Homo sapiens: one gene and its partner. The main gene of each other region encodes a partner of the protein of the gene in region 2 in a complex. Each region holds a gene or a part of one and is shown on either strand. Other genes may lie near its edges.

What was found.
Region 1: the proteins of APAF1 (region 2) and CASP9 are in contact, whole or in part, in a crystal structure (PDB 4RHW), measured with the Homo sapiens proteins. Residues at the interface, in NP_863651.1 of Homo sapiens: Thr22, Ser23, Tyr24, Met26, Asp27, Ile30, Ser31, Ile37, Glu40, Glu41, Arg44; in NP_001220.2 of Homo sapiens: Asp23, Trp26, Asp27, Leu30, Arg36, Pro37, His38, Glu41, Gln44, Arg45.

Annotation. Positions count from the first base shown.
Region 1 is NC_000001.11:15,503,410-15,507,521, reverse strand, and holds part of CASP9 (caspase-9 isoform alpha precursor), read left to right. Parts: intron 1-388; exon of another isoform or gene 389-446; coding exon 447-623; intron 624-1,442; coding exon 1,443-1,532; intron 1,533-2,763; coding exon 2,764-2,911; intron 2,912-4,112. UniProt on the Homo sapiens protein: Involved in the activation cascade of caspases responsible for apoptosis execution. Binding of caspase-9 to Apaf-1 leads to activation of the protease which then cleaves and activates effector caspases caspase-3 (CASP3) or caspase-7 (CASP7).
Region 2 is NC_000012.12:98,643,212-98,646,811, reverse strand, and holds the start of APAF1 (apoptotic protease-activating factor 1), read right to left. Parts: upstream 1,523-3,600; 5' UTR 977-1,522; intron 1-976. Other genes in the region: IKBIP (inhibitor of nuclear factor kappa-B kinase-interacting protein), read left to right, coding at 2,111-2,289. UniProt on the Homo sapiens protein: Oligomeric Apaf-1 mediates the cytochrome c-dependent autocatalytic activation of pro-caspase-9 (Apaf-3), leading to the activation of caspase-3 and apoptosis. This activation requires ATP. Isoform 6 is less effective in inducing apoptosis.

The DNA of each region.
Region 1 (4,112 bases), on a different chromosome or scaffold from region 2:
AGAGAGAAGTTAGACAAATGAGTATATAAATAGAAATAGTGATAAGTACCATCAACAAAAGAACAGGCTGCCTTGAGAGAATTACAAGGGGACTGAGCCTGGGGAGAGGGCAGCCTTGGGTGCCTCCAGGTGGCCTGGGCATGGTTCTGCTGACAGAGTTCTCAGGTACACCCCGGCCTAGGTGACCCGTGAGGTCCTTTGGGATGAATGCTCATGGCTGTTGGATTTCCAGGTTACCAGCTCCCTTCCCTTAATACCAAGATGGGGGGGTCACCTTCTAGTGCTAGTCTTCCCTGCAGTTGCTTCTCTTTTGCCCTGGAATGCCGGGTGGAGACCCTGCTACTCCTTGTGCGAGAGGGCAGACCCCGTTTTCTTCCCGCCTCTCCAGACTGTCCTCTAGGGAGCGTGGGGAGAGCCCGGGTTTACGTGGGTCCCTGTGCTGGCAGGCTTACATCCTGAGCATGGAGCCCTGTGGCCACTGCCTCATTATCAACAATGTGAACTTCTGCCGTGAGTCCGGGCTCCGCACCCGCACTGGCTCCAACATCGACTGTGAGAAGTTGCGGCGTCGCTTCTCCTCGCTGCATTTCATGGTGGAGGTGAAGGGCGACCTGACTGCCAAGGTACACTCACTATCTGTGGAGGGAGACAGGGTGGGGGGCAGTGGGTGGGGAAGTATCTTTTGAGGGACTCCAAAAGCCAGCTGACTCCCCAGGCGAGCCCTTACATCTGGAGGACCATGGGAGGTAGGACGGCCCAGCGGCTACAGGTTCAAGTTCAGACGCAGAAGTCCGGGTTTGAGGACTGGCTCTCTCGGCCACCTGCTGTGTGACCTCCTGTGCCTCAGTTTCCTTGTCTGGAAAGCAGGAATAGTACCTGCCTCCTTGGGTTGTTTTGGGGGTTAGATGAACAGTGCCCAAGCGTAGCACCTTCTCCCCAAAAATGGTGGCTATTACGACTGCTGGGACTGTCAGCACTTCGGTACTGGCCCTGGGAAACCGAGAAAGTGCTCTGCCCAGGCGTTTGGGTTGGGCCCTTTGTTGTTTTATTTTTTGGGGGGGGCGGGGGCACAGAGTCCCACTCTGTCATCCAGGCTGGAGTACAGTGGCGCGATCTCGGCTCACTGCAACCTCCACCTCCCAGGTTCAAGCAATTCTCCTGCCTCAGCCTCCTGAGTAGCTGGGATTACAGGTGTGTGCCACCATGCCTGGCTAAATTTTTTTTTTTGTATTTTTAGTAGAGACGGGGTTTCACCATGTTGGCCAGGCTGGTCTCGAACTCGTGACCTCAAATGATCCACCTGCCTTGGCCTCCCAAAGTGCTGGGATTACAGGCGTGAACCACCATGCCTGGCCAGGCTGGGCCCTTTTATTGTTAGGAACGGTCCAGTCTGCATCTAGACCTATCCGTGCTTCTGGCTCACCTGCAGCCCTCTCTTGTAGAAAATGGTGCTGGCTTTGCTGGAGCTGGCGCAGCAGGACCACGGTGCTCTGGACTGCTGCGTGGTGGTCATTCTCTCTCACGGCTGTCAGGTAGGAAGCCTCCCACTGTTCCCTGGGCAGGCATTGGGTACTGGCCGTGCCAAGAGGCTGTGCAGGGGCCATGTCCCTTCTTGTGTCCAAAACACCCTTGGCTTTGTGGAAAAGGGCTGTGGGGCCCTGCCCACCTCCTGTTGTTTTCTTGGGAGCCATGTGGTCCTCTGAGGAGTTGGCTGCACCGTCCTGGGCAGGTCGGTGTTCCTGGGAGAAGCCCTCTGGGAGAGGGAGGGCAGAGACCAGGTCTGCTCACGAAGCTCCTGCACCCAGAGTTTGTTCAGAGGCGGGTACAGCACACATGTTGTCTCAGCTCCTGTCTCTGTCCTGTGAGGCACTGCCCCAGGCCCCTTGCTGCTGGTGGGACTCAGGACACCAGGCCCACTGGGGGCTTGGCCCCTTACGTATTTGTCACTGTGATTAAGCCCTTACCCCTTACTGGGCCTCAGTTTCCTCATCTTTTAAGTTGAGGAGTTGGACAGATCACAGTTATAAGCTGGGGCCTGGAGTCCCCCTGTGGTCTGCACGGTGTTTTGAAAACTGGCAAATTTCACATAAAAATCAGGATTTCTAGTTTCTCTTGACAAACCGCAAAGGTCTGGCCTGACGAGGCCAGCATCTTCAGCCAGTAAAACTCCAGCCTGTGGCTGGGCAGGGCTTTCCCTTTGGTCCTTTCTCTCATAATATGGTCCCTAGAGCTCATGAAGAATGTGGACTCCCAGGCCCTACCCTGGACCTCTTCATTCCAAGTCCGCCCAGCAACAAGGTTTCCAGGTGATTTCCATGCCCTTGAGGTCTGAGCTGAACTGATTTAAAGCAGCCACTCTCAGCGTTGAGCTGCCTCAGTCAGAGGGGCCTGGAGGACCATACTGCTGATTAGGAGGTCTGGGTGGGGCCCAGGAATCACATTTCTTACAAGTTCCCAAGCGATATTGATGCCGCTGCTGCAGGGGCCAAACTTTGAGAACCACTGGTCTAGAGGCCGCAGCCAGCACTCTCCAGGCACACTGGCCCCTAGAGGCACATGAGTTTGACATGCAACCCCTTGCTGTCAAGGTGTCTTTCCAGATGCTGACCAGGGTCTTTCCAGAACCAACCTGCTCTGTCTCAATCAGCCTCGTGCCCCTGGCTTTGACCTTCCAAATCCTTGGCTCCCACAAAACCTCTGAACAGGCTGTTGGATTCCTACTCCAACTTCTTGGTTTTGTAACCAGGGTTCTTGGTCTTCTAGGCCAGCCACCTGCAGTTCCCAGGGGCTGTCTACGGCACAGATGGATGCCCTGTGTCGGTCGAGAAGATTGTGAACATCTTCAATGGGACCAGCTGCCCCAGCCTGGGAGGGAAGCCCAAGCTCTTTTTCATCCAGGCCTGTGGTGGGGGTAAGCAGCTCCTCAGCCTCCCTCTGGGTGGGTCTGGTGGGGAGGGAGCCGCCACCTGCTTCTTTCTCCAGCCTGCCCCTCACAGGGCCCATGAGGTCTCTCCAGGCAGTCAGAGGGTACCACACATGGTCCCTTTTTGGCAGCACCTCTGTCTGGCTGGAGCAGGCCCTGCTCTGTCTGCTTTGTAGAGGTCAGAGTCTTCTGTTTCATGGCACAGTGGCATCATGGGCTCAAGTAACTTTGGCAGCTTCAATTCCAAAGACTTGGCAAAAAGAAAGCAGAAGAGAGAGGAGAAACCTCTTTTTATTTTTCTTGTCACCATTCTCCTGACCTCCATCAACTAGACCCCGTTTCCACTATCCCAGAGAAAGGGTGGCCACAGCTAAACTGCATGGAGAAACCAAAGAATTTAAATATTGGAATTTTCAAAAGTGTAGTTGTGGGGGTTCGAGGAACATTTAAAGATTACTTGGGCTGGGTGCAGTGTCTCATGCCCAACACTTTGGGAGGCCGAGGCAGGAGGATTGCTTGAGCCAGGAGTTCGAGACCAGCCTGGGCAACACAGCGAGACCCTGTCTCTATTTTTGTTTTGTTTTTTAAATGTATTACTTGGATTCTTTGTAGTTTTGCTGTATGCTCTAATTTTAAACTTAACTCCTATTACAGTGTTATCTGATTTTCTTATAAAAAAAGAGGGAAGAGAGACAAACATGGGGTTCCTAGTTTGTGGGTCATGACAGGAATATCAGGGAGCGCTAGAAATTCTGTCCCAGGGAGTCCCCTCTGCCCTAGGCTCTCCACGGACTGGAACATTCAGAAGGTATATCAGTTCCTTGCCTCCAGCCTGATCTGCCAGAGAAGTGAGCACTGTTATACCATAGCGCTGTCCAGCTCGTCCAGCTGTGACATGGGCACCTGTGGTCTATTTCTCCTGTGCACATCCAACTGCCCCATCCCTATTCCACGTTGGTGGAGTTGGGTGGAGGCTACCTAGGAGAGCAGTCTCTGGTCACATCATTCATCCAGTAAGTGTTTATTGAGCACCATCTGTATATACCAGGCTGTGCGTTAGGTGCTGGGGATAGGGGAAAAACAGAGTTTCAGTCTCCTGGAATTTATAATTTGACATGAACTGTATTAAGTCACTGTCATGACCCATGCCCATAACTTGACCACAAGTGATTGAGAACACTTGATTAAC
Region 2 (3,600 bases):
CTAGCAACTTTATTTCAAATATAATGCAAATTTTTCCATGGGCATAAAACCCAGTTCACAATATCTGCAAGTTTTCAAAACATTAACAGAACTTTACACAATGTATAGAGTGAAAGAGTCTAAACGGGTTTATCAATTCATTCATTCAATACACATTTGTGCCCCTCCCTATATGTCAGACACCAAGACTACAGAAAAGATTGAGTCATTTGCCTGAAATAATTCACAGTCTACTCAAAGAAGAAAAAGAGAGAGAGAGTGGGAATGTGAATGCCCGAAGTGCAAAAACAGAGCACAAGTAACTTGGAGCTCACAGAAGGGGGCAATAATTATCAAGCTTCAATGACTGTTTTTGAAGTCACCAAATGTAGCACTTGGAAAAACAGGGACGGACGTAGGGCATTTGCCTATGCTTGTCAAGGCTTACAAAATGCCCAGCAGGGGCACAAAACTGATAAAAAGTTATTGATTCGAATCAAAACTCTCATTTTTTAAAATGTTAATAACGTTTTTGTCCTCTTAAACATAAAATGTTCCTTAATTTATAGTAATGAAATTCGATGTGAAAAAACAAGAATGAATGAATTTTTTAGGTGATGTCCAATAGCTAAGCAAATAAGACACTCTGGTTTTCTGAAACTAATTTCCAATTTCACCTAGTCCTGTTAAACTAAAATATGCAAATCTTAAATACGTTTTAAAACTGCACAACTTATCTGAACTAAGTCTCAAAACCTTTTGTAACCCACAACAAAATGGAAAGCCAAAACTCTTCATGGACGTAAAACAGAAAACAGCGCACGTTTATCCACGAAAACCCCAAGTTTACTACTTCCTCATTACAGAATTTCTCTTCCTGGTACAGGAGCAGGATGGTTATCAAATATTCCATGTCCTCAAATTCTCAGTCCCTGAAATCAGCTACCAAGCCTCCAAAGAACCTGGCTCGGGGAGAAAAGCGAGGAGGTCAACTTACCCAAGCCTTTGCGCCTAGGTCTTAGTGGGGAGGGCGGCACTGCCGGGACAAGACTGGGAGACTCCAGGCCGGTGGAGGGAAACGGCAACAGGAGTTTTCCACCGGGAATTAGGGGTGCAGGGCTCTGTCTCGCCACATACCCTTCGCCCCGGGGCAGGTCCGGGCCTCACAGGCGCCTCCCCTGGATCTCTGCAGCCCCGGGGCGCACGAAGACCCCCAGGGACCTCCGAAGGTTGGCGAGGTGGGCGTCCACCCAACGCAGCCTGACCCCACAGTCCCGGAGCGCCGCGGTGAGGCCCGGCCCACGGGCCGCCCTCCGGTGGACCCCACTACTGGACACAAAGGGAGGAGGTCTTCCCGGCCTGTGGCGCCCTTCCCCCGACGGCGGCTGCACCCCGGAGGGAGCCCGGCGCTACTCCGGATGCCGCTGCGGCACCTCAAGTCTTCGCGGGTCGCCGACTGCCCAGACTCCCCACCTCTGGTTCTATCCCTTTTGCCCGGGATAGAGCAGTCACGTCCACTCGCTACCTCTTCTTCTCCGCCTCTGGACAGCGGAGCAGTCAAATCCCGCCGGATCCACCCAGCCCGGACGGCGCGCGCCCGCTTATGCAAATAAACACACCCCAAGCCCCAAGGGGCGGCCACCGCTGCCGCCGCGCACTCCTGCCACGGCTCATGCCCGCGCGCGTAGAAGTGCCCGCCTACCCCGCGGACGGGGCGTGGCTAAGCCTCAGGGACGCGCCGCGTTCCCACCAATGCCGGACTCGGGCAGCGGCGGCGCGCCCGACGTGGCGCGCGCGACCCCTTCGTCCTGCCCCTCCTCCTCGGGTCCCGTCGGCCTGCGCGCGCCCGGGAGTTTGAATTTCCTCGGATTTGGAGCAATATCGCAGTGGAAGGCGCTGTGGGTTGAGGTCGCCGCCCACCTCTCCTAGGGGAACTATGGAGCTGGCAGCTGAAAGACTCAGTGAAGCAACGAGGATGCCGGGGAGAGGGAAGGGGCTGGGCTCTGGGCGGTGCCAAGTCTGTGAGGGGGCGCGGTCACCGCCCAGGGTTCCCACGAACGCCAAGGCGGCCACGTCCTGCTCCCCCTGGTGAAGAAGCTGCCCTGGGCTTGTCGTCCTAGGGTCTCCAGACATGTCTGAGGTGAAGAGCCGGAAGAAGTCGGGGCCCAAGGGAGCCCCTGCTGCGGAGCCCGGGAAGCGGAGCGAGGGCGGGAAGACCCCCGTGGCCCGGAGCAGCGGAGGCGGGGGCTGGGCAGACCCCCGAACGTGCCTGAGCCTGCTGTCGCTGGGGACGTGCCTGGGCCTGGCCTGGTAAGTGGACGCGAGGCTGCCTGGGCCGGCCTCCTGTGGGCCCCCTGCTGTTTGGGCTCCCACCCGGCTCAACATCCAGCCGGAGGTGATCCAACCTCCCAGACCTGGGCCTTCTGTGCCTCTGTCTTGACCCCAAAGGAAGGAAACAGCCCAGCCTTGTTTTTCCCTTTCGGGCGTTTCTTGTATCTCATTTCCCCCCGTGCTGGTAGCATGCCCCTATCGCTCAGAAGGAGTTGAGGCTAAGGTTTGGGAACGAGCCATTTGTTAAGAGCTGCAGATTCGGCCACGCTTTCTGAAGCTCCCGCTACACGTCAGAAGCGTTCACGTTGTTATAAACCGTTACTTCCTGTCCGCTGTGCCCCATTCCGGGACACATCTGCCCCACCCTACTCACCCCATAAATACCTAATGGAAATACTTGCAACCTTAAAACAGATCATTATGTTTGGAGACCGAGGCAGGTGGATCACTTGAGGTCAGGAGTTCGAGACTAGCCTGGCCAACATGGTGAAACCCCATCTCTACCAAAAATACGAATAATCAGCCGGGCGTGGTGGCGGGCGCCTGTAGTCCCAGTTCCTCCGGAGGCTGAGGCAGGAGAATCGCTTGAACCCGGGAGGCGGAGGTTGCTATGAGCCAAGATCGCATCACTGCACTCCAGCCTGGGCGACCGAGCGAGACTCCGTCTCAAAAAAAAAAAAAAAAGAAAACCATATCATTATGCTCCCAAAGGAGCAAACGTTATAGTAGCAGAGCTTGGAGGAGTGCTCATATTTTGATCACCGTGCATGCATTATGAATTTAAGGTCTTTTATTAAGTAAGTTACAGATTGAATATGGTAAAGCTACAAAAACATAGCACTTGTGTTCACTTAAAACTAACCAGTTGCAGTTTTAAAATCAGGTAAATGGCGATATATTGGTGTCATTAGGAAAAATGAATATTAGAAATAACCTTAAAACCAACTCGTAAAAAAAGAAAAAAGAAAAAAACCAACTTGTGAATTTTATTTTCCCAGCCTTTTTTTTTCTGGCGGGAGGAGGGAATAGCCCATTTCATTTTAATAAGATTGGCATCTTAATAGAATTTTTCTCCATTTTTCATTCATGTGTAAAGTTATTTAGTAAGACTGTTGTTAATCTTCCAGAGTGATAGAATTTTAGAAGAGACCCTGGACATCTAGACATTTTTTATGCTACTACATATGGAATTATACTTTACTGGTGACTCATCCCAAATAGTGTATTTTTCAGAGTTAAAAGATTTGTTACGGCTGGGCGCGGTGGCTCACACCTGTAATCCCAGCACTT